Linked DNA regions of Homo sapiens. The protein of the gene in region 1 purifies or fractionates together with the protein of each later gene. This does not show direct contact. Each region holds a gene or a part of one and is shown on either strand. Other genes may lie near its edges.

Region 1 (7,651 bases):
AGCCGGGCATGGGGGCACATGCCTGTAATTCCAGCTACTGAGGAGGCTGAGGTGGGAGGATCACTTGAAGCCAGGAGGCGGAGGTTGTAGTAAGTCGAGATCGCGCCACTGCACTCCAGCCTGGGCGACAGAGCAAGACTCCGTCTTAAAAAAAAAAACAAAAAAAAAAAACACAAAAAAACCCTAATAATAATAAATTATTAAAAAGTCTCCGGGACAGTCTCCTGCCAGGCAGTGCTGGCTCTCAGGAGACCTTAGCTCTGGCCCAGCCCATGCCCAGGAAGACAGAGCTGGCACAGACCAACCCCCAACCCGGATTCCCTGTATGAGCCAGCACAGGCGGAACCCCCCCACCCCGCCCACCCTGTTTCCCTATATGAGCAAGTACAGGACAGAATGAGAGGCTTGGGGCTGGAGGAACTGGAGGGAGAGTTGGGGCTCTGTCGGAGGAATCAAGGAAAGCTGCATGTAAGAGGAGGCAAGGGAGATGGGGTTTTGAAGCATCAATAGGAGTTTGACACATTTTATTTTATTTTATTTTATTTTATTTTATTTTATTTTATTTTATTTTATTTTTAGTAGAGATGGGGTTTCACCATGTTGGCCAGGCTGGTCTCGAACCCCTGACCTCAGGTGATCCACCCGCCTCAGCCTCCCAAAGTACTGTGATTACAGGCTTGAACCACTGCACCTGGCCGACCCATGTCATTTTAGACCAGTGCTGACCATTTCTGTTATTCTGAGATGAAGGAAATTTTCAATGTGGCACTATCTACTACTGTAGCCACTGGCCATGGGGCTACTGAGCACTGGAAGTGTGGCTGGTGCCATCAGGGAAGCAAATACTTCATGTTCTTTTTATTTTATTTTATTATTATTTTTTGAGACGGAGTCTCGCTCTGTCACCCAGGCTGGAGTGCAGTGGCGCAATCTTGGCTCACTGCAAGCTCCACCTCCTGGGTTCACGCCATTCTCCTGCCTCAGCCTCCCCAGCAGCTGGGACTACAGGCACACCTCCACACCCAGCTAATTTTTGTATTTTTAGTAGAGACGGGGTTTCACTGTGTTATCCAGGATGGTCTCGATCTCCTGACCTCGTGATCTGCCCGCCTCAGCCTCCCAAAGTGCTGGGATTACAGGTGTGAGCCACCGCACCCAGCAAATACTTCCTATTCTTAAATTTCAATTAAAAATTAAAAACTGGCACTAGATTCCATTTTTTGAAGACACATATATATAAATACACATATATATGTAGCTGGGACTCCGAGTAGCTGGGACCGTAGACACGCACCACCACGCCTGGCTAATTTTTGCATTTTTAGTAGAGATGCGGGTTTCACCATGTTGGCCAGGCTGGTCTTGAACTCCTGACCTCAAGTGATCCGCCGGCCTCAGCCTTCCGAAGTGCTGGGATTATAGGTGTCAGCTGCCGTGGCCGGGCTATTTCAATTAATTTCAGTTAAAAATTAAAAACTGACATGATTTCCGTTTTTGACTATATATATATGTACACACACATTAAAGTTTTCAAATACATAAATACACACATATGTACACATTATACATATAAATGTAAATATATAGATATTTGAAACAGGGTCTTGCTCTGTCACCCAGGCTGGAGTGCAGTGGTGCAAATATAGTTCACTGCAGCCTCGACCTCCTGGACTCAAGTAATCTCCTGCCTCAGCCTCCTGAGTATCTGGGACTACAGGCATGTGCCATATGCCTAGCTAATTTTTAAATTTTTTGTAGAGATGGGGTCTCCCTATGTTGCCCAGTCTGGATTCAAGTGATCCTCCCGCCTCAGCCTCCCAAAGTGCTGGGATTGCAGGCGTGAGCCACCGTGCTCAGCCTCGTGTATATTTTAAATACCTTAGCGTTTCTGAATTTTCCTTTTCAGTATAAACGCTGTAAATCTAAATACTGTGGAGATAAGTATTTCTGAGGAAGCACTGGTATCCATATTGGAACACCCCATGGATGGGAAACACACCAGATTCTGAAGACTTGGTACATCTCAGTTACTTTTTTTTTTTTTTTTTTTTTGAGAAGTAGTCTCGCTCTGTCACCCAGGCTGGGGTGCAGTGGCGTGATCTCGGCTCACTGCAAGCTCCGCCTCCCGGGTTCAGGCCATTCTTCTGCCTCAGCCTCCCGAGCAGCTGGGACTACAGGCGCCCGCCACCACACCCAGCTAATATTTTTGTATTTTTAGTAGAGACAGGGTTTCACCGTGTTTGCCAGGGTGGTCTCGATCTCCTGACCTCGTGATCCGCCCGCCTCGGCCTCCCAAGTGCTGGGATTACAGGTGTCAGCCACCGCGCCCGGCCACTTTTTTTTCGTTTATGAGGTGGGGTCTTGCTCTGTTGCCCAGGCTGGAGTGCAATGGTGCCATCACAGCTCACTGCAGCCTCCAACTCCTTGGCTTAAGCAATCCTCTTGCCTCAGCCTCCCAAGTAGCTGGGACCACAGGCACACACCACCGTGCCCAGCTAATTTTTGGTATTTTTCGTAGAGACAGGATCTCATTATATTGCCCAGGCTGGTCTTGAACACCTGGGCTGAAATGATCCTCCCGCCTCAGCCTCCAAAAGTGCTGAGATTACAGGCATGAGCCACCGCGCCTGACCTTGTTTGGATAACTTGAGATGTGTAAAATATATTATTAAAATTAATTTCACTTGCTCTTTTTTAGTTGTTTTACTGTGGCTACCAGAACACTTAAAGTTATGTTTGTTATTTGCTTATCTTTCTCTTGGAAAGCTGTGTTCTTGACCTGTGGGCCAAATCCAGCTGCAGCCTATTTTTGTATGGCTTGTGAGCTAAGAATGGCTCTTACATTTTTAAGTGGTTGAAAAAAAAACCCAAAATATGAAAACCATTCTATCAAACGTGGAAATTACATAACATTCAAATTCCAGTGTCTGCAGACAAAGCTTTATTGGCACACAGCTGTGCCCATCCATTTATGTATCATTTACGGCTGCGTTTTCTGTACAACAGCAGAGTGGAGTAGTTACTCTACCCAAAAAAGCTAAAAATACTGACTGTTGGCTTTTTTACACTTTATTTTTTAGAGACAGGGTCTCACTTAGTCATCCAACCTGGAGCGCAGGGATACGATCATGGCTCACTGCAGCCTCCAACTCCTGGGCTCAAGCAGTCCTCCCACCTCAGCCTCCCAAGTAGCTGGAATTACAGGCATGCACCAACGTCCTCAGTTAACTTTTAAAAACATTTTTTTGGGGGGGCCGGGCGCGGTGGCTCATGCCTGTAACTCCAGCACTTTGGGAGGCTGACGCGGGTGGATCACGAGGTCAGGAGTTCAATACCAACCTGGCCAAGATGATCAAACCTGGTCTCCACTAAAAATACAAAAAAAATAGCCGGGTGTGGTGGCGGAAGCCTGCAATCCCAGCTATTCAGGAGGCTGAGGCAGAGAATTGCTTGAACCCAAGAGGCGGAGGTTGCAGTGAGCCGAGATCACGCCACTGCACTCCAGCCTGGGCGACAGAGTGAGACTGCGTCTCAAAAAAAAAAAACAACACAAAACTTTTTTTTGGCGGGCTTGGTGGGTCACACCTGTAATCCCAGCACTTTGGGAGGCCTAGGCGGGCAAATCACCTAAAGTTAGGAGTTCGAGACCAGCCTGACCAACATGGAGAAACCGTCTCTACTAAAAATATAAAATTAGCCTGGAGTGGTGGCGCATGCCTGTAATCCCAGCTACTTGGGAGGCTGAGGCAGGAGAATGGCTTGAACCCGGGAGGCGGGGGTTGCAGAGAGCCGAGATCGCGCTTCTGCGCTCCAGCCTGGGCGACAGAGCGAGAATCCATCTCAAACAAACAACCAAAAAACCCAAAAACCATAGTATCCTCTTGTGTACGCAGCCGGCACTCAGTAAGTGCCCCTGAAGAGCACTTATTTATTCATTGCTGCGCGAAGCTACGGGGGCAGGTGGCACAGCGCCACGCAGGAGTAGAGACTGCCAGATTGTTCTACCGCCAACCTTAGTGGCGCCACAGGAGATGGACACGGGAAGACTATGACGTTACTGGCCCTGTGACGTCATGGCAGGATCCGGGCAAGAGAAGCCAAACGAGGTGACGAGCTGTAGACTACAGCAAAAATATGGAACGCTTCACGAATTTGCGTGTCATCCTTGCGCAGGGGCCATGCTAATCTTCTCTGTATCGTTCCAATTTTAGTATATGTGCTGCCGAAGCGAGCACGACTCAAGGGTTACTGTCACACCTATTTTAAGCCCTTCAATCAAATCATCTTTTGGTTAGGATAACTTATGGTCGGTTTCATATTTAGCATAATTTCCTACAGTGGTATGTTGCAGAACAACTTTCGTGCTTACGCTTACTTTGATGTCTTCGATCACGTAAAATCCCATATCTTATCGTAATTTTACCGCCTTATACTGGCCTCATAGCCGCGGTGGATTGTGGGTGCCAATATGCAAAAGAGGTGGCCCAGATGCAGGCCCGCCCCCTGGAGCGGCCGAGGTAGGGGGTGAGGCCTCCGCGGGCGCCGCTGGCATCCCAGCGTTCTCTGCGGGCGCAGGGGGGCCGCTCTTGCCCGGCGTGGCGACTCGCTAGCGTCAGCAGCGCCGCAGCCGGACGAGAAAGCGGAAGATGGCGGCGGCGGCCGGGAGGCCGTGAGGAGAGCGGCGGCTGCGAGGGCGGCCGATGGCGGCCGGGAGGCGCCCTCGGACACTTGCGGGTCGTTAGGGCGCGACGCTGGGAGGCATGTCGGAGCACGTGGAGCCCGCAGCTCCGGGGCCCGGGCCCAACGGCGGCGGCGGCGGCCCGGCCCCCGCGCGCGGGCCTCGCACCCCCAATCTCAACCCCAACCCCCTCATCAACGTGCGCGACCGGCTCTTCCACGCGCTGTTCTTCAAGATGGCTGTCACCTATTCGCGGCTCTTCCCGCCCGCCTTCCGCCGTCTCTTCGAGTTCTTCGTGCTGCTCAAGGTGACCGCGGCCCCGACCCCCGACCCTTGACCCCAGCGGCTGTCCCGACCCCCAAGTCTGCTACCTCCGACCGCGACCCCTGGCCCCGCTGGGGACAGCGAGCGCCACCCTGCACCCTGAGGCCTATACCCGGCCCTACCGATTAGGGCTCTCCCTCGCGACCTCTGACCCTGGGATTGGCCAGGGACACCGTCTCGTGACCCCATCCCGCCCGGGGACGTCCACCCGGGAAGGCCGGATCCCGCTGCACTAGAAGCCGCTGTTCTCTACTCTGGAAACCTCACTGTCAGCTCCCTCCAGGGCCCATCCTGTCCCCGGCGACCGCCTTTCCCAGGTCCCCACCTACCCAGGCTTGGAGTCCGGTCCTGGCCTGCGAGGTAGCACCTCCCGCCCTTTGACCCCTGACTGTGCCGCCTGAGACCCTCAGTTCCGAGGCCTCTCTCCCCTCCCAATGTGCTGGCCCAGAACCCAGCCTGACGCAGGTCTCCCTCGGACCAACCCCTGTCCTGGAAGTCGACTCCCCACTCCCCTCTCTCCCTCCTTGTAGCCTTTCAGCTGCGTTCCCCGCTCCTGAGCCTCAGGGGAATGTGACTTAGCTGAGGTCACCTCGCTAGGGTTAGCGGCAAAGTCACCGGCAGCAGCGTACCACCCCATCCCCGGCCTCTTCCTCCGCTGGGTCCCCACTCCCTTCCTGCTTCAGGAGCTCAGGTTGTGGGTCTGTCGCCCGTGCCTCCCCTATGAGGCACCGGCCTCCGCGTCTTGGGCTCTGTCCCCCTCCCGCCCTCCTCAGATGGCAGAGGTCTCAGCCGTGCAGGACAGGCATCGGCCTGACTCCCTCTGAGAAGGAGTCTTGCTTGGGTGACAAGAGGGGCTCAGTAGCAGCTGCAGCCCCTCAGAAAACAAGCTGGCCGGGGTCCTGGGCCACCTGGCGAAATGGGGACGTGGCCGTTTTCGTTCTGCATCAGAACACCGCCGCGCCGGGGCTTGGGGGCTGCTGAAGTTGCGCCGTGAGCTTTTTGGATCTAGCCTGCAAAGAGGGGTCCGATGCTGGCGGGCCAGGCTGCGATCGTGGGCAAGTTCCCAGCCTGACACAGGTTGGTCAGGAGCTGGCTGCTTTTTTGGGCTCGGCAAGTGGAGCTGGACCTTGGCCGTCCTGCGGACCTGGGTGTGGGTCCCAGCCTGCTGCCACTTCACGGAAGGCCCCCCAGCCTCCAGATCCGTGCCTCCCCAGGCCAGAGCTCAGCCCATCATCCTTCCCACCTTCCTCCCTGCAGCCCCCCAGAGTGGCATGGTCGCCTCAGTAGGCACCTGAGCAGGGCTGTGAAGGGTTACGCAGGCAGGCGGCCTTTCCCGGCTCTGGGGTCCACAGACGGGGCCTGAAACTGTGGACGGAGGCTGGTCTGTGGACGTGGGTTTTCCTTCCATGGAGTAGCCTGGGAACAGGATGGAGCCACTGTGTCCTTAGGCTTGTGGAGGGTGTGTGCTGGGTGCCAGGCCAGGTTCCCCCGACGGAGCTCAGCCTCCTTGGGAGGTGCATCCCTGTCGCCTGGGCCCTGGTCCCACCATGTCCCGGTTTGGAAAGGGATCAAGCCTACCCGGCTCCATCTCCAGGCCAATACCACTCACAGGTGGTCAGATGGGGCTGGGCCAGAGCTGGAGTTCCCCGTCTTCTGTGTAGGGTGGAGACTCTTGGGAGGTTCTCAGTAACCCCAATCCCTCCTCTCTCAGCAGAGGGCTTTGGACTGTGAGATCTCTGGGTGGTGAATTTTTTTTTTTTTTTTTTTGAGATGGAGTCTTGCTCTGTCACCCAGGCTGGAGTGCAGTGGTTTGATCTCGGCTCACTGCAAACTCCACCTCCTGGGTTCAAGCAATTCTTCTGCCTCAGCCTGCGGAGTAGCTAGGATTACCGGTGCCCACCATCACAACCGGCTAATTTTTTTGTCTTTTTAGTAGAGACTGGGTTTTGCCATGTTGGCTAGGCTGGTCTCAAACTGCTGATTTCAGGTGATCTGCCCGCCTCGGCCTCCCAAAAGGCTGGGATTACAGGCGTGAGCCACCATGCCTGGCCTGGGTGGGGAAATCTGTTCTTTGTGAATTTTCCACCCGGTAATCTGGTGGCACAGAATCTGACCCTGCTGCCTTCACTTTTACTTATCTGCAAAGTGCAGGCTGGAACTGCCTGATTTCAGAGGCTGCCTTGAGTTCCAGAAGGCTCCTCTGCTTCCTGCCTGCCTGGCTTCCGGGGGTCTCCCTGCAGAGAGCCAGGTCCTCCCTGGTATGATCCCTTCAAGGTGGCTTCATCCTGTGGCATCTGTGCAGCTGAGCTCCCAGCCCTGAGCTGGCATGGAGTCCCCCAGCTCTCACCCATGCCTGGGTGGCTTTAGGAAATGCCAGGATCTCCCAGCTCTGAGCCAGCATGGAGCCCCCCGGTCCCTCATCCATGCCTGGGTGGCTTTAGGAAATGCCAGGCAGTGCCAGGTGCTGGGGAGAGAGGAGGCGGCAGGGGCCTGTGTTCCAGGGGCCCTCGGGAGACCTCCATCCAGCCTCAGTATCCACCTCTGCTGGCCTTCATGGCCCTGAGCCCAGTGTGGCAGAGACTGTCCATCTTGGGGCACTGGGTGCCTGCACCTGTGCGGTTGGGCTCTGGACCCAGGTGACCACCAAGT
Region 2 (6,949 bases), on another chromosome or scaffold:
CACAGCAAGCTGAGATTGTGCCACTGCACTCCAGCCTGGGCGACAGAGTGAGACCCCGTCTCAAAAAAAAATAAAAAAATGAATAAAAATAACAGAAACACAAAGCCTCTCATAGACCCAGAACCTATAGTACCTATCACAGGAGGGAACTGGGGAGGAGCTCCCAGCAGTCTTCTCCTGAGTCAGCAGTCTTTTTGCTGAGGGATCCTAGGGTCTCCAGTCCCAATACCAGTTGGAGTTATACAGTGGAGACAGGGATCCAAAGTCCTGGGGTCTGCCTCCTGCTGCAGCTGCCCAACTTTCCCTCCTCCAGGAGAGTTATATCTTTGGGATTCCATTTCATCAACACAAAGACAGTTTTTTCACCTTGTTATGCAGAATGCAACACCCCCTTTCTGGATGAAAATTTGTGCTTTAGTTTTACAGAGCCAAAAGGCCTGACAGAAGAAAAAGAACTCCTCCCTAGAGAGGGAGGCTGGGAGCCTCACTCTCAGGGGCAATGCTGAACTTTCTACCCCTTTACAGCACGCCGACCACAGCCAGCTCAGCCTTTTCTGATATATTTACAACTACAAAAGATACCGTTAAAAAAGAAAAATACCTGGGTGCAGTGGCTTACGCCTGTAATCCCAGCACTTGGGGAGGCCGAGGCGGGTGGATCGCCTGAGGTCAGGAGTTCAAGACCAGCCTGGCTGACATTGTGAAACCCTTTCTCTACTAAAAATACAAAAAGTAGGCCAGGCGCGATAGCTCACGCCTATAATCCCAGCACTTTCGGAGGCCGAGGCAGGCAGATCACCTGAGGCCAGGAGTTCGAGACCAGCCTGGCCAACATGGTGAAACCCTTCCCTACTAAAAATACAAAAATTAGCCAGGTGTGGTGGCACACACATATACTCCCAGCTATTCAGTAGGTTGAGGCAGGAGAATCACTTGAACCTGGGAGGCGGAAGTTGCAGTGAGCTGAGATCTCCCACTGCACTCCAGCCTGGGTGACAGCAAAACTCGTCTCCAAAAAAAAAAAAAAAAAAATCAGGATACAAGGCCAGGTGTGCAAATCCTGTTGGTGGACAAATCGCCTCTTTGGGGGCAATTTGGCCACTTCCTTAAACACTGTTCCCAGTTACACAAAAGGCAGGCTACATACAGGAATATTCCTCTCAGCGTTGCTTGCAACAACTCATGTTGGAGTGGTTAGACAAATCCATATTACCCATGGCAGGAAAGAACTAGGGAGGGATTCCAAGTGACCAGCATGTGTACTGCCTTGGGAAGATCTCCCAGAGTGGTTTTTATTGATTGATTGAAACGGGGTCTTTCTGTATGCCAGGCTGGAGTGCAGTGACGCAATCACAGCTCACTGTAGCCTTGACCTCCTAGGCTCCAATGATTCTCCCACCTCAGCCTCCCAAGTAGCTGGGACTACAGGCACACACCGCCAGGCCTGGCTAATTTTTAAATTTTTTGTAGCGACAGGGTCTCGCAATGTTGCCCATGCTGGTTTCAAACTCCTGGACTCAAGTGATCCTCCCACCTTAGCCTCCCCAAGTGCTGCAATTACACTCTAGAGCCACCATGCTCAGCTGAAGACAATTATTTTCCTTTACATTTTTTTTTATTTTGAGACGGAGTCTCACTCTGTCTCCCAGGTTGGAGCATAGTGGCGCGATCACAGCTCTCTGCAATCTTGACCCTAGGGTCAAGCAATCATCCCACCTCAGCCTCCTGAGTAGCTGGCTCATGGCTCACTGCAGCCTTAACCTCCTAGGGTCAATCATCCCACTTCAGCCTCCTGAGTAGCTGGGACCACAGGCACACGCCACCATGCCCAGCTAATTAATTTTTTTTTAGAGATGGGGGTCTCACCATATTGCCCAGGCTGGTCTTGAACTCCTGGCTCAAGGGATCCTCCTGCCTCAGCCTCCCAAAGTGCTGGGATTACAAGTATGAGCCACTGTGCCCGGCTTTGTGAATGTACTTAATGCCACTGAATTGCAAACTTAAAAATAGTTAAAATGGTTTTAAGTTTTATGTTACGTATATGTATATATTTATCTTTAGAGATAGAGGTCTCCCTGTGTTGCCCAGGCTGGCCTTTAACTCCTGGGCTCAAGTGACACTGCTGAGTCAGCCTTCAGAGTAGCTGGGACTACAGGTGCATGCCACTGTGCCTAGCTATGTTTATTTTACCACAATGAAAGGACTTACAAAAAAGAAGCTAGACACCGAAGAGGATACACAGTTGGATTCCATTTATAGCAAGTACAAAAACAGGAAAAACTAATGTATGGTGACAGACGTCAGAATAGTGATTACTCTTTGGAGGTTAATGGCTAGAAGAAGACATGAAGGGGGAGATTCTGGGGTAATTCTTTCTTTTTTTTTTTTTTCCTGAGACAGAGTCTCGCTCTGTCACCCCAGCTGGCGTGCAGTGGCTCCATCTCAGCTCACTGCAACCTCCGCCTCCCAGGTTCAAGCCATTCTCCTGCCTCAGCCTTCTGAGTAGCCAGGATTACAGGCGTGCGCCACCACGCCCGGCTAATTTTTGTATTTTTAGTAGAGACGGGATTTCACCATGTTACCCAGGCTGGTCTTGAACTCCTGACCTTGTGATCCGCCTGCCTTAGCCTCCTAACGTGTTGGGATTACAGGCGTGAGCCACCGCGCCAGTCCTAATTATCTATTTCTTGATCTAAGTGCTACTTCTGCCAGTGTTCAGTTGGTAGAAGCCACCGAGCTTTTTGCTTATGTTTGCCCCTGTCTGGATTATTTATCCTTTAATCAGTAGTTCTCCAAAACCCCAAACTCCAGCGCTTTTTTTTTTTTTTTTGGAGACAAGGCCTCCCTGTCGGGTGCAATGCAGTGGCTCAGATCATAGCTCACTGCAGCCTCGAACTCCTGAGCTCAAGCGATCCTCCCACCTCTGCCTCCCAAAGCGGTGGGATTACAAGAGTAAGCCACTCCCCCCGGCCACAGTAAGTTTTTAGAAAAAATTTTAATTGCGGCCGAGCGCGGTAGCTCACGCCTGTAATGCCAGCACTTTGGGAGGCCGAGACGGGGGCGGATCACCTGAGGTCGGGAGTTCGAGACCAGCCTGACCAACATGGAGAAACCCTGTCTCTACTAAAATACAAAATTAGCGGGGCGTGGTGGCGCATGCCTGTAATCCCAGCTACTCGGCAGGCTGAGGCAAAAGAATCGCTTGAACCCGGGGGGGCGGAGGTTGCAGTGAGCCGAGATCGCGCCATTGCACTCCAGCCTGGGCAACAAGAGCGGAACTCCCGTCTCAAAAAAGAAAAAATTTTAACTGCAAAAATCTGGATAAGTTCTTGAAAGCTGGACTTTTCCCCCTTTTTGTGTCCTAAGCCTGCGCCGAATCTGTGCCTTCTTTGAAATGCTTTCCCGCCTTCTTTCTCCGGGTCCCACACTACCTGGGGCCGCACTCTTCAAGCACTGGATGCTGACTAACTGGTCTCCTTATCTGTCTTCCCGACTGGCCCAGAGCTGAGTTCTTACTAATCCCCGCTAACCTGGAGTTAGGTGCGCGTTGCAAAGCAGTAACGAATCCAATCAGCCGGGGAGGCAGACAGCAGGGCCGGAAGAACAAAGCTGGAAAGGGAAACGTCGCACCGGCTCTGCCCAGCGGCGCCAGCCCGGGCAACCTTCCGCAGTCGCGAAGCCACGCCCCTTTCCCAAGTACCTCCGCGCTAACTCCTCCCCCCTGGCCCCGCCTCTCACCCTGGATTGCCTAAGGCCCCGCCCACCAGGCGTGGCCCCGCTCTGGGAGGGCCGCAATCCCGCCAACAATGACTCCACCCCTCCTTCCGCTGAGAAACCTGTCCCTTTTATTTAAAGAATACCTTTTACGTCAGCCCGTCTTACGCAGCTTCGCGTCATCAGTGCAAGGCGCGGAGGCGGGACTTCCTGTCCCTGGTATAACAGCTTCCGGGAGAAGCCGGAAGAGACCGGACCCTGAACAGAATCGCAGATTGCCAGCCCTTTTCCCGACCCCTACGGAAAGACGAGTCCAGGGGCCGTCCTGGCGAGGTCAAAACATTTAGTCTGGTCTTTTCAGGTGAGGACTTCCCCATCCAGGCACAGTGCCGGTCCAATCCCCCTTTAATTTCCCATGACTCCTCGCGTCCTGAAGCCCCGCCCCCAGTTCCCCAGCCCCGCCCCGAAGTTTGAGGGGTGTGGACGGTTTGTGACCCCCTTAGCCGACCCTACTCCTCACTGGCCGGGACAACTGGTCTTATCACGGAGGCTGGGGCCAGGCAGCCCTTCGGTTCGGGTGGGCCCATGGACCCCAGTCCAACGCCGAGGGAATAGGACCATCCAAAAGCGGAACCTTCGCCTCAGAAAAAGGGTGCGGGACCCCTCCTCACCGTGCGGTCACGGTACGGACAGGGTAGATCACAGGCTGAGGGACAGAGCAAAGACCCCTGAGGCCGGACACCTGGGGTCCTGCCGGGCCCCTCCCCACGAGAGTTCCCTGTGTCTGTGCCAATCGTTTTCGTCTTTCTTTGCCGCAGTTTCTTTTCCTGTAAATCATGGTTAATAACATTAACCTTCTTACCATCAGGGGTTAGTTGTGGTTGTGATAAATAATTACTACCGTTATTAAGCAATTGCAATTTGCAGTGTGCCAGGCACTGTGCCAAGTATTTTGCTTCGATGATTTCACGTCATCTTCAAAACAACCTCATGAGGTAGGTACTGTTTTTAACCCCATTTTACTGATGAGAAAGCTGAGGCTCTGAGAAAGTTGTCTGAGGTGTTATAGCTAGTAAGACGCAAGACTGGGGTTATAATTAGTTGTTTTTCTAACTCCAGGGCCGGTATATTAAATAAGGATGTTGATGTGTTCCACAGATAATTCTTTGAGCAACTACTGGGGCATTATATTGGACACTTCAGTACCAAGAGAAATACATACGATCCTTGTCTACCAGGAGTCTAATAGAAAGATGGACAGGTACATAAGTATAATGAAGTTTTATAGGTGCTGTGAGAATAGTCTGATAATGGTAATCACCAGACTGGATTTGCCCAGGGACAGCTGTGAAAGCAGCAGATTCTCCAAGGGAAATAGTAGGTACTCCAAGGAGCAAGCAGGGACCCTTCCTGCCTTTCTAAGAAACTGCAGCAGCAGAACCTTCACAGTGAAAGAAGAGAGACTGAGATATGGATTGTGAGAGCTGTTATGGAATCTTTTTCAAATCACTCCACTTGGGGAGTGGTCATTGCAGGAGTGGGCCCATGGTGACCCAGGAAGGTGGTGCTTCTGGTGTCTGTCCCAAGTTGCTCCCCAGGGCTTGCCAGAAGTTTCAGAGGCGGCACATAATGTCTGCTGCATAGTATCTGCCCGCGGTCCCTACAGAGTTATCGTTTTAGATTTGTCTGACTCTGCTTTTGATGGTAGGTCAGTTTTCTTTGGCTCTTGACATCTGGCAGCCTGGATCTGTGACCAGGAATGAAATAGGCTCAAATGAGACAATCTGGCAGGGATGGCTAAACAGTGCTTCCAGGGGGGCCCCACAGTAAAATATTCCAGGCTTTTGGGTCTCTCTGAAGCCACTTTGGAGGCTGCTTAGGAGGCATATTTGCTTGACCAAGCGATAGAAATCCTAGAGAAACTCAGGCCTCAGCAAAGATTTTTCCTCATTCACCAAAAAAGCAACAACAGTAGCAGCAGCAGCAAGGCTGTGGGCTTTTCCTGCTGATCCACACTCATTGGGAAGTTGGAGTTTGAGAGAGGAAGGTCACAGAACGTGAAAGCAAGAGTTTCACAATAGAGGCAAAGGGTAGGGTAGGTCTTTAGGTTTAGGTTGGGGTGCCGGAATTAGGAAGGTTTGTGCCCCCTTCTACACAACACTGAACTCCTTTTTTTTTTTTTTCAGGGCTGGGTCAGTTAGAACCTAAACAAACTAGAGACCTGGTTGCAACCCCTCAGGCTCTGCTGATGCTGTCCCCCTTTGTTCCTGCAGCGTGGACCCTGCCAGCAGCCAGGCCATGGAGCTCTCTGATGTCACCCTCATTGAGGGTGTGGGTAATGAGGTGATGGTGGTGGCAGGTGTGGTGGTGCTGATTCTAGCCTTGGTCCTAGCTTGGCTCTCTACCTACGTAGCAGACAGCGGTAGCAACCAGCTCCTGGGCGCTATTGTGTCAGCAGGCGACACATCCGTCCTCCACCTGGGGCATGTGGACCACCTGGTGGCAGGCCAAGGCAACCCCGAGCCAACTGAACTCCCCCATCCATCAGAGGGTAATGATGAGAAGGCTGAAGAGGCGGGTGAAGGTCGGGGAGACTCCACTGGGGAGGCTGGAGCTGGGGGTGGTGTTGAGCCCAGCCTTGAGCATCTCCTTGACATCCAAGGCCTGCCCAAAAGACAAGCAGGTGCAGGCAGCAGCAGTCCAGAGGCCCCCCTGAGATCTGAGGATAGCACCTGCCTCCCTCCCAGCCCTGGCCTCATCACTGTGCGGCTCAAATTCCTCAATGATACCGAGGAGCTGGCTGTGGCTAGGCCAGAGGATACCGTGGGTGCCCTGAAGAGGTGAGTGGCCTGGGAAGTGGGAAGCTGCTTGTGCTCATCCCCCAGCCCTTGGTTGCCTCTAAGGAGGCTGGTGCAGACATGGGAGCTGCAGCAAAGTGTAAGATCCAGCCCCTACCAAGGGCAGGTAGATACTTTCTTAGAAATACACCCTTCAGGCCGGGTGCAGTGGCTCCCGGGACTTTGGGAGGCCGAGGCGGGTGCATCACGAGGTTAGGAGTTCGAGACCAGCCTGACCAACATGGTGAAACCCCATCTCTACTAAACATACAAAAATCAGCCGGGCGTGGTGGCGCACGCCTGCAATCCCAGCTACTCAGGAGGCTGAGGCAGGAGAATCGCTTGAACCCAGGAGGTGGAGGTTGCAGTGAGCCGAGATTGCGCCACTGCACTCCAGC
Region 3 (7,513 bases), on another chromosome or scaffold:
TCCATGTTATCGCAAAAGGCCTTGGCTCTCACTGCATTTCCACTGAGGCCAAACCCACCACCTGCCGGTGGGCGTCCCCTTTCAAACAGAGCTGGGGGAGGAAGCAGATGGCCCAGGGTGAGGCCCATCTGTCCGTGCCCGCTCGAAGGTCACCATGCCACCGGGGTGCCTGCGGGTGCCTCCAGCACCCACCACACCAGGGCTTGCGAGGCATCTGCCAGCAGCGTGCCACCACTTCCTGTGCCCTCAGCGGTCGAAAGTCCAGGGCCTAAGGGCCCAGAGAAAAAAGCGCTAGGCAGCGCAGTGGCCGGGGGTTTCCGGTCCCCGACTCCGGGTGCGGTGTCCCTGGCGGTCGGTCAGCACCCGGCTGCCCAGCAGCTGCCTCCAGACCGAGGAGCCGCGGATCCCCGTCAGGCTCATGACCCGGCCAAAGCGCGGATGGACCTGCCGGCGCCTCCCACGCGGTCGCTGAGCCTCAGCCCAGCGCCAGGCCCGGCCCGCTCCCGCTTGGCCGCCGCGGCGTAGGGGGTGTGCGTCGGGAGAGGGCGCCGCGGCGAGCGCCACCCTCCGGGCCTGCGGGCGCTGGGCCCGGGAAGGCTGCCATCCACTAACGCGAGGCTCCGATCCCCCGCCCCACTGCGGAGCAGGGCCCGGGCAGCGGCTAAGAAGCCTCCCCGGTCACGACCCCACCTCCCCGCAGCTGAAGCCCTCTGCCGCGCCCACCTTCCCCGGCCAGGCCTGGACAGATCTGGTCCCGGCCCCCCCAAGCGACACCACCTTCGCGCCCTGGAACACAGTCAGCAGAAAACCCCCAACCCCAAAGTGTCCCCGAACGAGATATGGCGAAGCTGCCCGCCGGTTCTGCAACACAGATCGGCAAACCTCGTGGCCTGGTCCTCAAGCGCGCAAGGACCCCCGACAGGGAGAGCATGGCCAGGCACGGCCTGTGGAGCCCTCGGCCGGCGCCGGAGAGGCCACTGCGCCCCGGCTCCCGCAGCCCCCGGCTCCGCTCACCCTCGATGGAGATGACGTGCTCCCGGATCTGGTTCTGCAGCGCCAAATCCTCGATGCGCTCGATCAGGTCGTAGATGGCGTAGATATTGGGATGCACGGACTCGAAGCGCTGGATCTCGGCCCGGATGGCCGCGGAGTTGGAGAGCGCGAACTGCTGGGGGGGCCCGCCGGCCAGCTGCTGCGAGGGGCCGCCGCCGCCCCCGGCCCCGGGCCCCGCGCCGCCGAACTGCCCGCCGCAGACGAGCTGCTGCGCGGCAGCGCCGCCGCCCCCCGGAGCCGCCAGGCTCTGCTGCTGCTGCGGGCTCTGCCCCCCGCCCGCCTGGAAGTTCATGGCTTCGGAGCCGTGGGGCCCGAGGCGGGCCCGGGGCGGCGCGGCGGAGGCGGCGGCGGCGGCGGCGGCGGCAGCGGCGAGCGGGAGCGCGGGGCTGGCGGGGCCGGGACTACTGGGCTGGCGGCGCGGGGCTAGCGCATGGAGCCGGGGGCCGGGGGCCGGAGGCCGAGGCCAGGAGGCGCCGCCGCGCACGCTGTGGCCGCCGCTGCCGAGCGCTTCCCAGCGCCGTGATCCCGCTGCCTCGGAGCAGCCTCCAGCGGCAACAACAACGGGACCGGGAGCGCGCGGCCCAGGCCCTCCCCCCGCGTCATGCGCACGCACCGCCGCCCCCGCCGGCTCCGGCACACGCAGCCCGAGCCCCCCTCCCCGCCGCCCCCGCCCCTCCTGCGCGCCGGCCCGGGCGCCCCCGCCCCTCGCTCGCTCGCTGGCTCTGCAGCCTCCACCCCCGAGCCGCGCGCTCCAGCCCTGGCGCCCCGGCCCCTCCCACTCAGCCTCGGCCCTTCCGCCTCCTCACCAGCCCCCACCCGCATTGCCTCGAGGGCCACCCTCGCGGAGGGGACAGCTGCCCTGGTCTCCTCCCGCGCCCGGCTGTCGCTTTCGCCTCCCTGCGCTGATCTGGGCGGGGTGTCGGATCTCTAGGCAATGCCCAAACAGTGCCCTGCGCCTGAGGGTGCTGCTGACCGAGGCTGATTGGCCGAGGAGTCCGCCCAGGCCCAGCTGCTCCTCGCTTACAGCGTCCCGCCTTCAGTGCGGCATAGGCTCCCCTGTCCCCAGGCTCCGAGGTCAGCCCTAGAGACCACCCTGCTGCCGGAGTTTTCTCCCTGTCTCCCTGCCCAGGCTCTCCACTGCCGGCTGCAGCAGTGCTCTCCTAAAAGACCCTCCCCCTGCCGGACTTGGGAGATTAGCTAAATGCTACCCGACCCCATTGGTACATAGAGGAAGAAGAGGGAGGGATGAAATAGTATATGCCTTTCTCCCCTACTCATCCCATTGGAGAGACCAACCAAAGCCCACGTGGCTCTCAATTTTTCTTGTCCTCACCCCTTGTCCATCCTGTCCTTTCACTCCCTCTAGGGCCAGGGAGCTCCCTGAAATGTCCCAGTTCCTCTGCAGTCCCATTGCCAAAGTGGGCTGCAGTTCTGTTAGCCCCCTCCCCCCCACCAACACACACACGTTTCCTAAAACCTACAAGAGGTGACATTTGCAGAGGCCGCAGCCAATAAATCTGCCAGAGATGTTGCAGGGTATCTGCTACCCCCAGATATCCTAGGGCATCAGTGACACACATCGTCCTTCTTACGCACACTTCCACTTCCCTGGCCAAGCTGGATCTTTTCCCAGCATGAAGCTGTCCACTGTTTGATTACCCACACAACTCAGCCCCAGAACCAACCCAGTCACTATTCCCGAGTTCCTTGTACCTTCCAAAGCACCTGGTGCAAGCTAATCAACACACAGGGTCTCCTAAGCTCCTGAGGAACCTGTGTTTCTATCTCCCTGCATAAGCTTAAGGATATCTTGTGCCCTCTCTGGGTTTCATCTGCGAAATATAGTGGTTGAACATAAAACCTAGTTCTGATGTTGTATAATTCTAAAAGTAACATCCAACATCTCTTTTAGGTGCTTAATTAGAATTGACAGCAGGAAGTAGCACCAGGTATACCTCCCAAGAGAGACACTAAGAGCAAAGAGCTCCTCAAATGTGTTGCCCCAGCAACTAGCACACACGTGTTATAGCACTGTTGGGCTGTTCACACGTCTAGCTCTTCTACTAGTATATGGAGCCACATGAGGGCAGGAAGAGGGTCTGATTCACCATTTTATTCCCAGTATCTTGCACAATGCCTGGGATATAGTGTGTGTGTGTGTGTGTGTGTGTGTGTGTGTGTGTGTGTGTGTAATTTTTTTTGAGACGGAGTCTCACTCTGTCACCCAGGCTGGAGTGCAGTGACTCGATCTCAGCTCACTGCAACCTCCACCTCCCGCATTCAAATGATTCTCCTGCCTCAGCCTCCCGAGTAGCTGGGATTACAGGCGCCCGCCACCACGCCCAGCTAATTTTTGTATTTTTTTTTGTAGAGACAGGGTTTTACCATGTTGGCCAGGCTGGTCTCGAACTCAGTGATCCGCCTGCCTTGGCTCCCAAAGTGCCAGGATTACAGGCGTGAGCCACTGCGCCTGGCCATAGTACATCTTTTAAAAAATATGTTAGTAGAATAAATGAATGAACAGGAGGGATGGAACTAGAGGTAGGTTAGTTCTGTATGGTATCAATCTAGACTGACATTCCTAAGGCAATATTTGGGCCACTTGCTCCCACAGTAGGCAAGAACCATGGGAAGACTAGGATAGATTATTTTAAATCAAGACTGGCCTGTAAAAACCAGGATGTGAGATCTCTGTGGCTACAGGAGCCCAGAGGGAAAAATCCAGATATCCACAGGCCTGGGATTCAATGCCATCCACACAGTAACACACCAAAGACCCGACTCCTGAGACCAGGTTTGGGTGGAGGTGAGCGAATAGCTACTGTGTGACATGTACCTTAGTTTTTACACTTTTTAATAAAACATCTAATTTCTTCCTTATGATTGACTTACGAGGTGTGTTTTAGAGAGGAAGAAATTAATGTTCAGAGAGATTCAATAACCCACCCAAGGTCATATAGCTGAGAAGCACAAGATAAGGGATCAGGATTTCTGCCAGGTTCCAAGGTCTATGCTTCTTCCACAGCCCTGAAGGGGCTGTGGAGTCCCGAAGGTGGAGGAGGGGACCAAGGAAAGGGGCAGCCCTGAGGATGGGTATCCCTAGCCAGCCTGGTGGGGCAGCCCATGGATATTGGGCTCTGGGCTGAAGAATTAATTTTGGTGGCCAAAGTGCCTTCTGGCGTCCACTCTGACATAACAGTAGGGGCCACCTGAGTTCCTCAGAGCCTTCCACACTGCATCACGAACACGGGTACTCTGACGTGCTCCAGCTGACGTCGGTGTCTGGTGTGATAGATGCCCTGGCTGTTGGCAGGGGAGGGGGCGGACGCTGCTGCCGCCCAAACCTCTAGGGGGTAGCACAACCCCCAAAACCGCCCCCGCCAGCCCCTTCGCGATCTGCAGGCGCAGAGAACCGCGGGTGGAGCCCCACACGTGGGTCCGCAGGGCGGAGGGCGGGGACAGCGCGGCGCCGGACTACAAGTTCCACAATGCCCCGGGCCGCGGCGGCGGGGAAGGAGGGGTGCTTCAGGTGCCTGCGACCTCCGCGCCTCCCGCCCGGAAGTGCCCGAGGGGCCGCGATGGAGCTGGGGGAGCCGGGCGGTGAGTCCCCGCGCCGTGACCGCGCCCACCCCGCCGCCCAGGGCCCCGGTCGGGCCGGGATCGCCGTGCCCTCCTGCGGCTTCGGGGGGCGGGAAGGTGGGAGGGGTGATGAGAGGTGGGGGTGGGGAACGTGAAGTCTCGGATTCCGGGCGGGATCTGGGGTCAGGCAGCCCGGGGGGCTTGGAGAGACTTCCAGAGGAGGCGCGGAGTTAGTCCTCCGCGGAGTGGGGTTGAGGGGACCTGGAGGGGGCCGAGCTGGGTGGGTGGTGACGCTCGGTGGCTCCAGATTGCCCAGGGGCGGAGTTTGACGTTTGCTGTGGGGGAAGCCTGGGAAGCAGTCCTGTGCCGCGGGTGGGGTTTAGGTGAACCGTAACGCGGGGGGCGGGGGTGGGGGCACAGAGGCTCTACCCCCACCTCTTAGAAACTTTAGCAGCGGAGTAGATGAGCCTGGGGTGAAGTCGGTGAAGGAGTAGACACACTGGGGTGAAGTGGGCAGGAGAATAGATACGCTTGGGGGTGAAGTTTGGTTGGGGTGAAGTTTAGGAGAGGCGTTGCTTAGGCCCTTACCTTGGGATAGGGTTTGGGTGAGTTGGGAGCTGGTTGAAGACCTCGAGCTCAGATGACAGAAAGTTAGGACTTGGGATTCGGCGATGGGAAGGGGCACCCGGAGGCAAGTTTGGGGCGACTGGGAGGCAGAGAAGCCGGTACCCTGGGGTGGGTGAGGGGACGGAGGCTGAGGACGGTGGGAGCGTCGCGGTGGGGTGAGGGCAGGACCCTGTGGAGGTTCCAGGGCTCCTGGCCAGGGGGCCCGGGCCTCACGGGCTCTTTGTGCCTCTCCAGCTCGGTAGCGCGGCGGGCAAGGCAGGCGCCATGACCCTGATTGAAGGGGTGGGTGATGAGGTGACCGTCCTTTTCTCGGTGCTTGCCTGCCTTCTGGTGCTGGCCCTTGCCTGGGTCTCAACGCACACCGCTGAGGGCGGGGACCCACTGCCCCAGCCGTCAGGGACCCCAACGCCATCCCAGCCCAGCGCAGCCATGGCAGCTACCGACAGCATGAGAGGGGAGGCCCCAGGGGCAGAGACCCCCAGCCTGAGACACAGAGGTCAAGCTGCACAGCCAGAGCCCAGCACGGGGTTCACAGCAACACCGCCAGCCCCGGACTCCCCGCAGGAGCCCCTCGTGCTACGGCTGAAATTCCTCAATGATTCAGAGCAGGTGGCCAGGGCCTGGCCCCACGACACCATTGGCTCCTTGAAAAGGTAAGTAGGTCAAGAGGCAGGAGCAATGCTAAAGACAGGGGTTGGGAGAGTGGTCGCAGAAGGCCCCCAGAGACACCTAAGACCCAGCCCTCCTTTATACTGGAGGCGCTGAGCGCCCCAGATCACAACTGTACTTGTTCCCCTGGCAGACGGCCCCTCCCAGGCCAGGGCCGGTGTGTTGTGGAGGGCAGGGGGAGGGTGGGAGTGCTGTTCCGGGGCCAGGGACTAGGATTGCCTGAGGCCTGCTCTCTTACCCAGGTCCCTCTCTCCTCAGGACCCAGTTTCCCGGCCGGGAACAGCAGGTGCGACTCATCTACCAAGGGCAGCTGCTAGGCGACGACACCCAGACCCTGGGCAGCCTTCACCTCCCTCCCAACTGCGTTCTCCACTGCCACGTGTCCACGAGAGTCGGTCCCCCAAATCCCCCCTGCCCGCCGGGGTCCGAGCCCGGCCCCTCCGGGCTGGAAATCGGCAGCCTGCTGCTGCCCCTGCTGCTCCTGCTGTTGCTGCTGCTCTGGTACTGCCAGATCCAGTACCGGCCCTTCTTTCCCCTGACCGCCACTCTGGGCCTGGCCGGCTTCACCCTGCTCCTCAGTCTCCTGGCCTTTGCCATGTACCGCCCGTAGTGCCTCCGCGGGCGCTTGGCAGCGTCGCCGGCCCCTCCGGACCTTGCTCCCCGCGCCGCGGCGGGAGCTGCTGCCTGCCCAGGCCCGCCTCTCCGGCCTGCCTCTTCCCGCCGCCCTGGAGCCCAGCCCTGCGCCGCAGAGGACTCCCGGGACTGGCGGAGGCCCCGCCCTGCGACCGCCGGGGCTCGGGGCCACCTCCCGGGGCTGCTGACCCTCAGCCCGCACTGGGAGTGGGCTCCTCGGGGTCGGGCATCTGCTGTCGCTGCCTCGGCCCCGGGCAGAGCCGGGCCGCCCCGGGGGCCCGTCTTAGTGTTCTGCCGGAGGACCCAGCCGCCTCCAATCCCTGACAGCTCCTTGGGCTGAGTTGGGGACGCCAGGTCGGTGGGAGGCTGGTGAAGGGGAGCGGGGAGGGGCAGAGGAGTTCCCCGGAACCCGTGCAGATTAAAGTAACTGTGAAGTTTTCACTCTTGCAGTGTGTCTGAGTGTGTGCGGGCTGGCGGGCGGGGAGTCCTCGCCCCTTGGGAGAGAAGGGCACGGACTGCGCCTGGGGTCTGGCCCTCCGCCTTCCCTTCTCCCCAGCGTTCTGCTCTGGCTTTGGCGCCGGCCTCCGTGGCCCCGCCCTCGGCGCCGGGCGCGCACTTCCCGCGGGCGGGGCTCGCGGCTCCCTGGCTCGCAGTGCCTGCCGGGAGCCACGTCTCCGAAGACCGATAGCTGCTTCGGGATTGGCGTCCGGGCGGCTATCTAGGGGCTGCTGGGAAGATGGCGGACTCGGTGGCTAGCCGATGAGGAGGCCGCGGGGGGAACCCGGCCCCCGGGCCCCGAGACCGACTGAGGGAGCGACCTGCGCAGGGCCCGGGGAGTCATGTAGGGGTGGCGCCTGCGGGGAGGGCTGCGGGAGGGCAGCGGGAGCTGGTGTTAGCGGCAGCGGCCACGGTCTCCTGGCGTCCCTGGGCCGGGGTGGGTGTTGGGGCCCCC
Region 4 (7,117 bases), on another chromosome or scaffold:
CCCATGGGTGGTTTCATACCAGGTGGAGGAAACATAATGCCTAGAGGTGGGGCTGCTCTGCCAACAGGTGGGGGTGGAGCCCCCGGTCCTGGTGGGTACTGTGTTGGGGCTCCAGTAATGCTCTTCTCTGTGGAGTCATTACCTGCTGGGATGGTCCCCCAACTCCTGGGACGGGGCCTGCTAATCCACCAGGAGCCTGGGGAATTGGTACACCAGCTGATACTCCTCTACCAGCTGCCCTAACAACTCCAGGGCCTCCTGCAGCTCCAGCAAGTGGTACCCGAGCAATGCCAGTATATTTTGGGGGTAGCCCCTCCACAGTCATGGATACCAAGTTCTCCCCATGCAGCAACACCAGACCCCAAAAGTGCTTTTCTTCGAGCTCTGGTTGCTTCACGTTCTTTGGCTTGATCTTTCTGAACTCATCACAATCGCAGAGGATCAAATTCACATGCTTGTCAAACGCCTTAAAGATGCCAAAGAAGATTGTGCCTTCCTGTAGGATGCATTTCATTCTATAGTCAATGTGCTGCTGCAGCCTTGCTACTCGTGCCCACAGTCGTGATTGCTGCTTCACCAAATCCCGTGTCCACAGTTAAAACTTCGTGCTTCTTAAGACCTGGGGGAAAGCTATAGATAAAGGTATGGTGCAGGTTCTCCCAGAAACAATGCAAGCTGAGGGGGAAACGTGGTGGCTCACGCCTGTAATCCCAACACTTTGGGAGGCTGAGGAGGGCAAATCACCTGAAGTCAGGAGTTCGAGAGCAGCCTGGCCAACATGGTGAAATCCCATCTCTACTAAAAATACAAAAATTAGCTGGGTGGTAGTGGCATGCACCTGTAATCCCAGATACTCAGGAGGCTGAGACAGGAGAATCGCTTGAGCTAGGGAGGCGGAGGTTGAGGTGAGTCAAGATGGCATCACTGTACTCCAATCTGAGTGACAGAGTGAGGTGCTGTCTCAAAAATATATGTATAATTTTTAAAAGTATATTGAAAGCATTGGGTGAGGTGGCTCATGCCTGTAATCCCAACACTTTGGGAGACCAAACTGGGAGGATCCCTTGAGGCCAGGAGTTTGAGACCAGCTTGGGCAACAGCAGGACCCTGTCTCTACAGAAAAATAAAAAATATTAGCTGGGTGTGGTGCGTGCCTGTAGTCACAGTTATTCAGGAGACTGAGGTGGGAGGATCACTTGAGCCCAGGAGTTGAAGCCTGCAGTGAGTTAGGATGGTGTGCCACTGCACTCCAGTCTGGACCACAGGCTGAGACCATGTTTTTTTAAAAAAATAAAAAATAGATAATGGATCGATTGATAGAGAAAGCTCACTCTGTGATGAACCTGTTCCGAGTATCCTCATAACAACTTTTTGAGGAAGGAAGAAATTGGAACACACCTGTGGTTAAACAAGTTGAGTTTATCACTTGTTATGGGGTAAGGGTGAGAGGACATGAATCATGAGAAACAATAGGGCAGCTGGGCTTGGTGGTTCACATCTGTAATCCCAGCACTGTAGAAGCCCAAGGTGGGAGGAACACCTTAGGTCAGGAGTTCGAGACCAGCCTGGCCAACATGGTGAAACCCTGTCCCTACTAAAAATACAAAAATTAGCCGGGAGTGATGGTGGGCGCCTGTAATCCCAGCTACTTGGGAGGCTGAGGCAGAAGAATCACTTGAACCCAGGAGGCAGAGGCTGCAGTGAGCCGAGATCACACCACTGCACTCCAGCCTGAGTGATAGAGTGATACTCTGTCTCAAAAACAAACAAACAAACAAACAAACAAACAAAGGGGCATCTCAGTAACAAAGTGTTACAAAGGACACATAGGATTTGGGCTTGCATTAGGTGATTTGGACGAGGGCTTAAGAAAATGGGGTTTTCTGGATTGGATGCTGCCTATGAGTGAGTACCTTGATAAACATTATTTAGAAGGAGGGAAGAGTAGACCGAGGCTAAATCTATAATCTCTATACAAGCCAGAATAGGGAAATGTTTGGCCATTTTTGTAGTTCGAACAATGCTCATGTTTTGTCTGGGTTTAGACATGATTCAAGTGGTTTTGTTATTGTCTTGATCCATCATGGTCACATAGTGGCTTTGTTTGATGTTGATGTTCTGTGAAGTTTTTATGTTCAATAAGAGAACACACCAAGGTCTATTTGTGAGTGCCAGACCATCTCCTGGATGTCAGGGGCTGTTTTTCTCTTAGCGCTTGGTTTCAAATCCAGGTTTGTGTGACTGGAAACATCCCTTGTATTACTTCTTGATCACAGGAACTTGCAAAGGTGGCTGGCAGACTAGGACTTTCATCTATGAGCTTATTTCATCTACTATTTTTTATTTTTTTTTCTGAGATGGAGTTTCACTCTTGTCGCCCAGGCTGGAGTGCAATGGCACGATCTTGGCTCACTATAACCTCTGTCTCCTGGGTTCAGGCAATTCTCCAGCCTCAGCCTCCCAAGTAGCCGGGATTACAGGTGCCCGCCACCACGCCTGGCTAATTTTTGTATTTTTAGTAGAGATGAGTTTCACCATGTTGGCCAGGCTGGTCTCGAACTCCTAACCTCAGGTGATCTGCCTGCCTCGACCTCCCAAAGTGCTGGTATTATAGGCGTGAGCCACCGCGCCGGCCTTTATCTACTATGTTCACCTCCTACTCAGGTCCGATCCCTAACCGTTCCTGGGATAACTGTAGGTACTTAATAAATGCTTGTTGAATGAATGAAGATGGCTGTCAAGAACTCCAATGACTGCTTGAGTGCAAATCACAAGCTCCATCACCTATCAGTATGTGATTTGATACAATATGTATTAACAGCTAATCCACAATCCATATTCAAATTTCATTACTTGTCCCAATATTGTCCATTACAACTATTCCACCACCACCACTACCCCAGTCCAGGGTCCTATTTAGAATCACACACCACATTTTGTTGTCATGCTTCTTTAGTCTCCTTTAAACTGGAACAGTTCCTCAGCTTTTCTCTGTTTTTCATGACAATGAGTTATTTTGTAGACAGTGTCCTTCATTTGGGGTTCTCTAGCACTTCCTCATGAGATGTGTACGGTGCACTTTTGACAGAAATACCACAGATGTGTTCTCAGTGCATTTTATTAGGAGGCCCTTGATCTGACCCATTAACTAGTGGTGTTAACTTTGATCACTTTGATCTGTTTGTTCTGCTAGGTTAAACCTCTGTAACATCACCATTTTCCCTTTGTAATCAATAGCTAATTTATGGGAGACACTTTTGCTGTTGTAAACATCCCGTTTCTCTAGTTTTACCACACATTATTGATTTCCTAATTCCACCATGTTTATTAGCTAGCATTCTACTAAAAGGAAGACTTTCCCTTCACCCATTAATATGCTCACTTCTTTATGTTTGTAAAGACTCATGGATTACTATTTTATTCAATTAGTTATACTCTATTACTATCACTCCATATTTTGATTCTGAAATTGCCCTGACTTGGCCAGTAAGATCTCCTTAAAGACAGCTCCTGTGTTCTTTGACACATTCCCATGATTCTTATTACCATCATCCTTATATTCTGGTGTAACAAGATGTTCCAAGTTTATCTGGTACTTTCCGGAATGAGTTAGTTCTTTCTCTCTCTCTTTTTTTTTTTTTTTTTTGACGGAGTCTCACTCTGACGCCCAGGCTAGAGTGCAGTGGTGCGATCTCAGCTCACTGCAACCTCCGCCTCCCGGGTTCAAGCGATTATCCTGCCTCAGCCTCCCGAGTAGCTGGGATTACAGGTGTGCGCCACCACGACCGGCTACTTTTTGTATTTTGAGTACAGAGGGGTTTCACCATTTTGGCCAGGCTGGTCTCGAACTCCTGACCTCAAGTGATCCATCCGCCGCGGCCTCCCAAACTGCTGGAATTACAGGTGGGAGCCACCGCGCCCGGCCGGAATCAGTTTTTTTCTTTTAGGAGCCCCGAACCCAAAGCTCTTTGAAAAGCTGCCGAAGCTCCAAGGTTCCTCCGCTTCCTGCCCGCAGGCGGAACCTTAGAGCTTCAGCCATGGAAATTAACCTCTTCCGGTTGGGGCCGGAAGTCCCTCCGAGAGGGGCGGCTCCGCGTCATGTGACTGGAGTCCGCGTAGGAGGGGTCGGAGGTCTTACCCAACAGATTGACGCGGCGTTAGTATTGGCCGTGTACCCGAAAAACTGATTGACTGGGCTGGCGTTAACTGTGCGGAGGCAGGTATGTGAGGGGCTGGGGTTGGGGCGGGGGCGCCAAAGTTTAGGGACGGGGGCGGGAGACCCGGGTCCGCCTTCCCAGGACACACGGGCTTGAACATCTGAGCCCAGGGGCCCAGAGACAGCAAGACCGGTCGTGTCTGTCCCCGAAAAGAGGACGAGCTGGCGTTGTGGTTCTGCGTCCCATGAATACAGATTGGGGAAACTGAGGCCTTGCGAAAGAGAAGGGCTCCCACAAGCTCTCCTTTCGAGGCATGGGCACTGATTCCCATTCTATCCCCCGTGCGAGACCGCCTCTATCATCTGGGAGTGCATTTCACGAGTTTGCCCTGAGTGGAGAAGCAGAGGCCGGGGAGCGCGGTGAACAGAGTTGGGCTGAAAGTAAGAGACCTGGATTCGAGACTTCGCCACCGACAGACAATTGTGCGTTCTGGGCCAAATCTCTTCCCTGTGCTGGGCCTCAGTTTTCTCGTCTCTAAAACGGGGCAGTGTTTTTCAAAATATGGTTCTTACACCATCTGCTTTGTAATTCTCTGAGATGCCGGCTTTACAGCGCGGGACTCAATTCAGACTTCTGGTTTAGAATCTGAACTTATGCGTAGGGGGGTCCTGTATATACTAATGTTTGAAGCTCATTGATTTTAAGTGCTTTCCTGCTGTGAGCACTAGATATCCATTCTTCGCTTTGAGGCAGCTGGTGCCAGTTCAGGAACTTTGAAAGAACTGGAATGGTTAGCTCAGTAAAGAGAGCACTGGAAGGGAATTAACTTTTTAAAAATTGAAAATACTGTTACGGCAAAGAGGGCTTCCACTTCATCTTTAGGCTAAAAGAGGCAGAACTAGGACTAACAGGTGAATTCTACAGGAAGGCAAGATTTTTGCTTAATAGAAGAACTTAAATGGAAGAATCGTCAGAGGTGACCACCGATGGAGTGAATGGATTGCCTCCGTGCCTCCTTTCGAGGGAGGTATATAGGTATTAGATGAAGGTCCTTTCCAACTTGAAAGTCTGTGATTCCAAGGAGTTGTTCTGCATCTTTCTGGTGCTGACTCTGCTCTCAAGGCAAATGTGACTTTTTTCTTCTCTTTTGACACTTCCATCACTTTAGCCTACATCTCCTGTAAATAAGGCCAATGCATCTGACCTTACATAATCTCTTCCTGGTTGTCCTGTGCACCATCCTTCTTTTCAAGGACTTTGGAATGACCCAATATCTGATAGAGGCACCTTAAATGTTTATTGAATGAATAAGTAAACTGGGTCCCACCCCATGGGTTAGTAGCTTTTTTCTAAGAACAAGTTGGAAATGCCTCTGAAGATTTTATGTTTGACCAGGAGAAGCCAGTGAACTCTGAATCACAAAATTGAGGACTCTCAGTTGAAAGCACCCCTTGAGGTTGTTCAGACCAGCCTTCTCTTCCCTGGAACATAATCCCTGCTTGAATCCTCTCTTCAGCAATATGTGTATAGATGTGAGAGAATTTTTGCAGTCTGTTGGCTAGCTTTCCATGCATCATATAAAAACAGTCCTCTTATAGACTTGACTTGCCAGTTCACACACATGACAAGTTCCAGCTTTTTTTTTTTTTTTTTTGAGTATTTAGTAGAGATGGGGTTTCACCATGTTGGCCAGGCTGGTCTCGAACTCCTGACCTCAAGTGATCCGCCTGCCTCAGCCTCCCAAAGTGCTGGGATTTCAGGTGTAAGCCACTGTGCCTGGCCTCTAGCATACCTTTGGTTTTCTAATCAAACATTATTATGTCCTTATTTTGTGCATTACAAAGCTCTGCCTAAATCACTTTTTCAACACCTGCTAGAATGCTTAGGAATGTTTATGTTGTCTTAGGGAGCAGAGGCTCCATATTATGACCCAGTTCTGCTGACTTGCTCCCCCGCCGCCACAAAAGTTAGGGTTGAGCCAAAACTTCCTGCCAGTTATCGACTTGTGTTTCCCAAGATTAAAAAATAAAAAAGTTGTGAAATGCTTATTCAGATGTTATCCAGGTACTGGGTAAAATGATCTTAATTTGTTGGAGTTTTTAGAACTTCTCGATCTAAAAGTTTCCTTTTAAAGAAGTGTCTGAATTGACATTCTCATAAGTATGTTCTTCAGGCCACTGGTCTGAAGAAGTGGCTCTGAAAAAAGGATTTGATGCTAATAATAAGTTTGAGAAAGCCACATACCATTATTCTTTCTTGGAGCTTCTCAATGTGTAATACCACATTAAAACCACTGAGAGGTCCTGCAATAAGGAAATGTGCCTTATAAGCCAAGATAATAACTTGTTCCATTTGTTTAATCTACTTGATGTCAAATCTTTTTTTTTTTTTTAATTGAAGCACACGTTAGCAAATTCTGACCTAGAGTGGGGATCTGCATACTATATATAGGCTGTGAACCAAACCTGGACCTACTGCTTGTTTATATGGTCTGTGAGCTAAGGGTGCTTTTTACATTTTTCTTTCTTTTTTTTTTTTTTTTAAGACGGAGTCTCGCTCTGTTGCCCAGGCTGGAATGCAGTGGCTCCATCTCAGCTCACTGCAAGCTCCGCCTCCTGGGTTCATGCCATTCTCCTGCCTCAGCCTCCCGAATAGCTGGGACTACAGGCGCCCACCCCGATGACTGGCTAATTTTTTGTATTTTTAGTAGAGGTAGGGTTTCACTGTGTTAGCCAGGATGGTCTTGATCTCCTGACCTCGTGATCTGCCCGCCTCAGCCTCCCAAGGTGCTGGGATTACAGGCGTGAGCCACCACGTCTGGCCTGCTTTTTACATTTTTAAATGATGGGAAATAAAAGAAGAATAATATTACATAGGTGACAATTACAGGAAGATAAAATTTCAGTGTTCATTTCAGTCACACCCATTTATTTATATTCATATATATTTACATATTGTCT

What was found.
Region 2: the proteins of TMEM259 (region 1) and TMUB2 purify together in Homo sapiens (affinity purification with mass spectrometry; 3 studies listed by BioGRID and IntAct, with this or other methods). This does not show direct contact.
Region 3: the proteins of TMEM259 (region 1) and TMUB1 purify together in Homo sapiens (affinity purification with mass spectrometry; 3 studies listed by BioGRID, with this or other methods). This does not show direct contact.
Region 4: the proteins of TMEM259 (region 1) and RNF185 purify together in Homo sapiens (affinity purification with mass spectrometry; 4 studies listed by BioGRID and IntAct, with this or other methods). This does not show direct contact.

The regions. Positions count from the first base shown.
Region 1 is NC_000019.10:1,018,106-1,025,756, reverse strand, and holds the start of TMEM259 (membralin), read left to right. Parts: upstream 1-4,633; 5' UTR 4,634-4,760; coding exon 4,761-4,985; intron 4,986-7,651. UniProt on the Homo sapiens protein: May have a role in the ERAD pathway required for clearance of misfolded proteins in the endoplasmic reticulum (ER). Promotes survival of motor neurons, probably by protecting against ER stress.
Region 2 is NC_000017.11:44,183,035-44,189,983, forward strand, and holds the start of TMUB2 (transmembrane and ubiquitin-like domain-containing protein 2), read left to right. Parts: upstream 1-3,937; 5' UTR 3,938-4,075; intron 4,076-4,168; exon of another isoform or gene 4,169-4,641; 5' UTR 4,642-4,674; coding exon 4,675-4,709; intron 4,710-4,872; exon of another isoform or gene 4,873-4,967; coding exon of another isoform or gene 4,968-4,975; intron 4,976-5,900; exon of another isoform or gene 5,901-5,987; coding exon 5,988-6,554; intron 6,555-6,949.
Region 3 is NC_000007.14:151,080,574-151,088,086, reverse strand, and holds TMUB1 (transmembrane and ubiquitin-like domain-containing protein 1), read left to right. Parts: upstream 1-4,593; 5' UTR 4,594-4,653; intron 4,654-5,067; exon of another isoform or gene 5,068-5,323; intron 5,324-5,493; 5' UTR 5,494-5,523; coding exon 5,524-5,912; intron 5,913-6,186; coding exon 6,187-6,538; 3' UTR 6,539-7,002; downstream 7,003-7,513. Other genes in the region: FASTK (fas-activated serine/threonine kinase), read left to right, coding at 7,321-7,402. UniProt on the Homo sapiens protein: Involved in sterol-regulated ubiquitination and degradation of HMG-CoA reductase HMGCR. Involved in positive regulation of AMPA-selective glutamate receptor GRIA2 recycling to the cell surface.
Region 4 is NC_000022.11:31,156,084-31,163,200, forward strand, and holds the start of RNF185 (E3 ubiquitin-protein ligase RNF185), read left to right. Parts: upstream 1-4,098; 5' UTR 4,099-4,220; intron 4,221-7,117. UniProt on the Homo sapiens protein: E3 ubiquitin-protein ligase that regulates selective mitochondrial autophagy by mediating 'Lys-63'-linked polyubiquitination of BNIP1.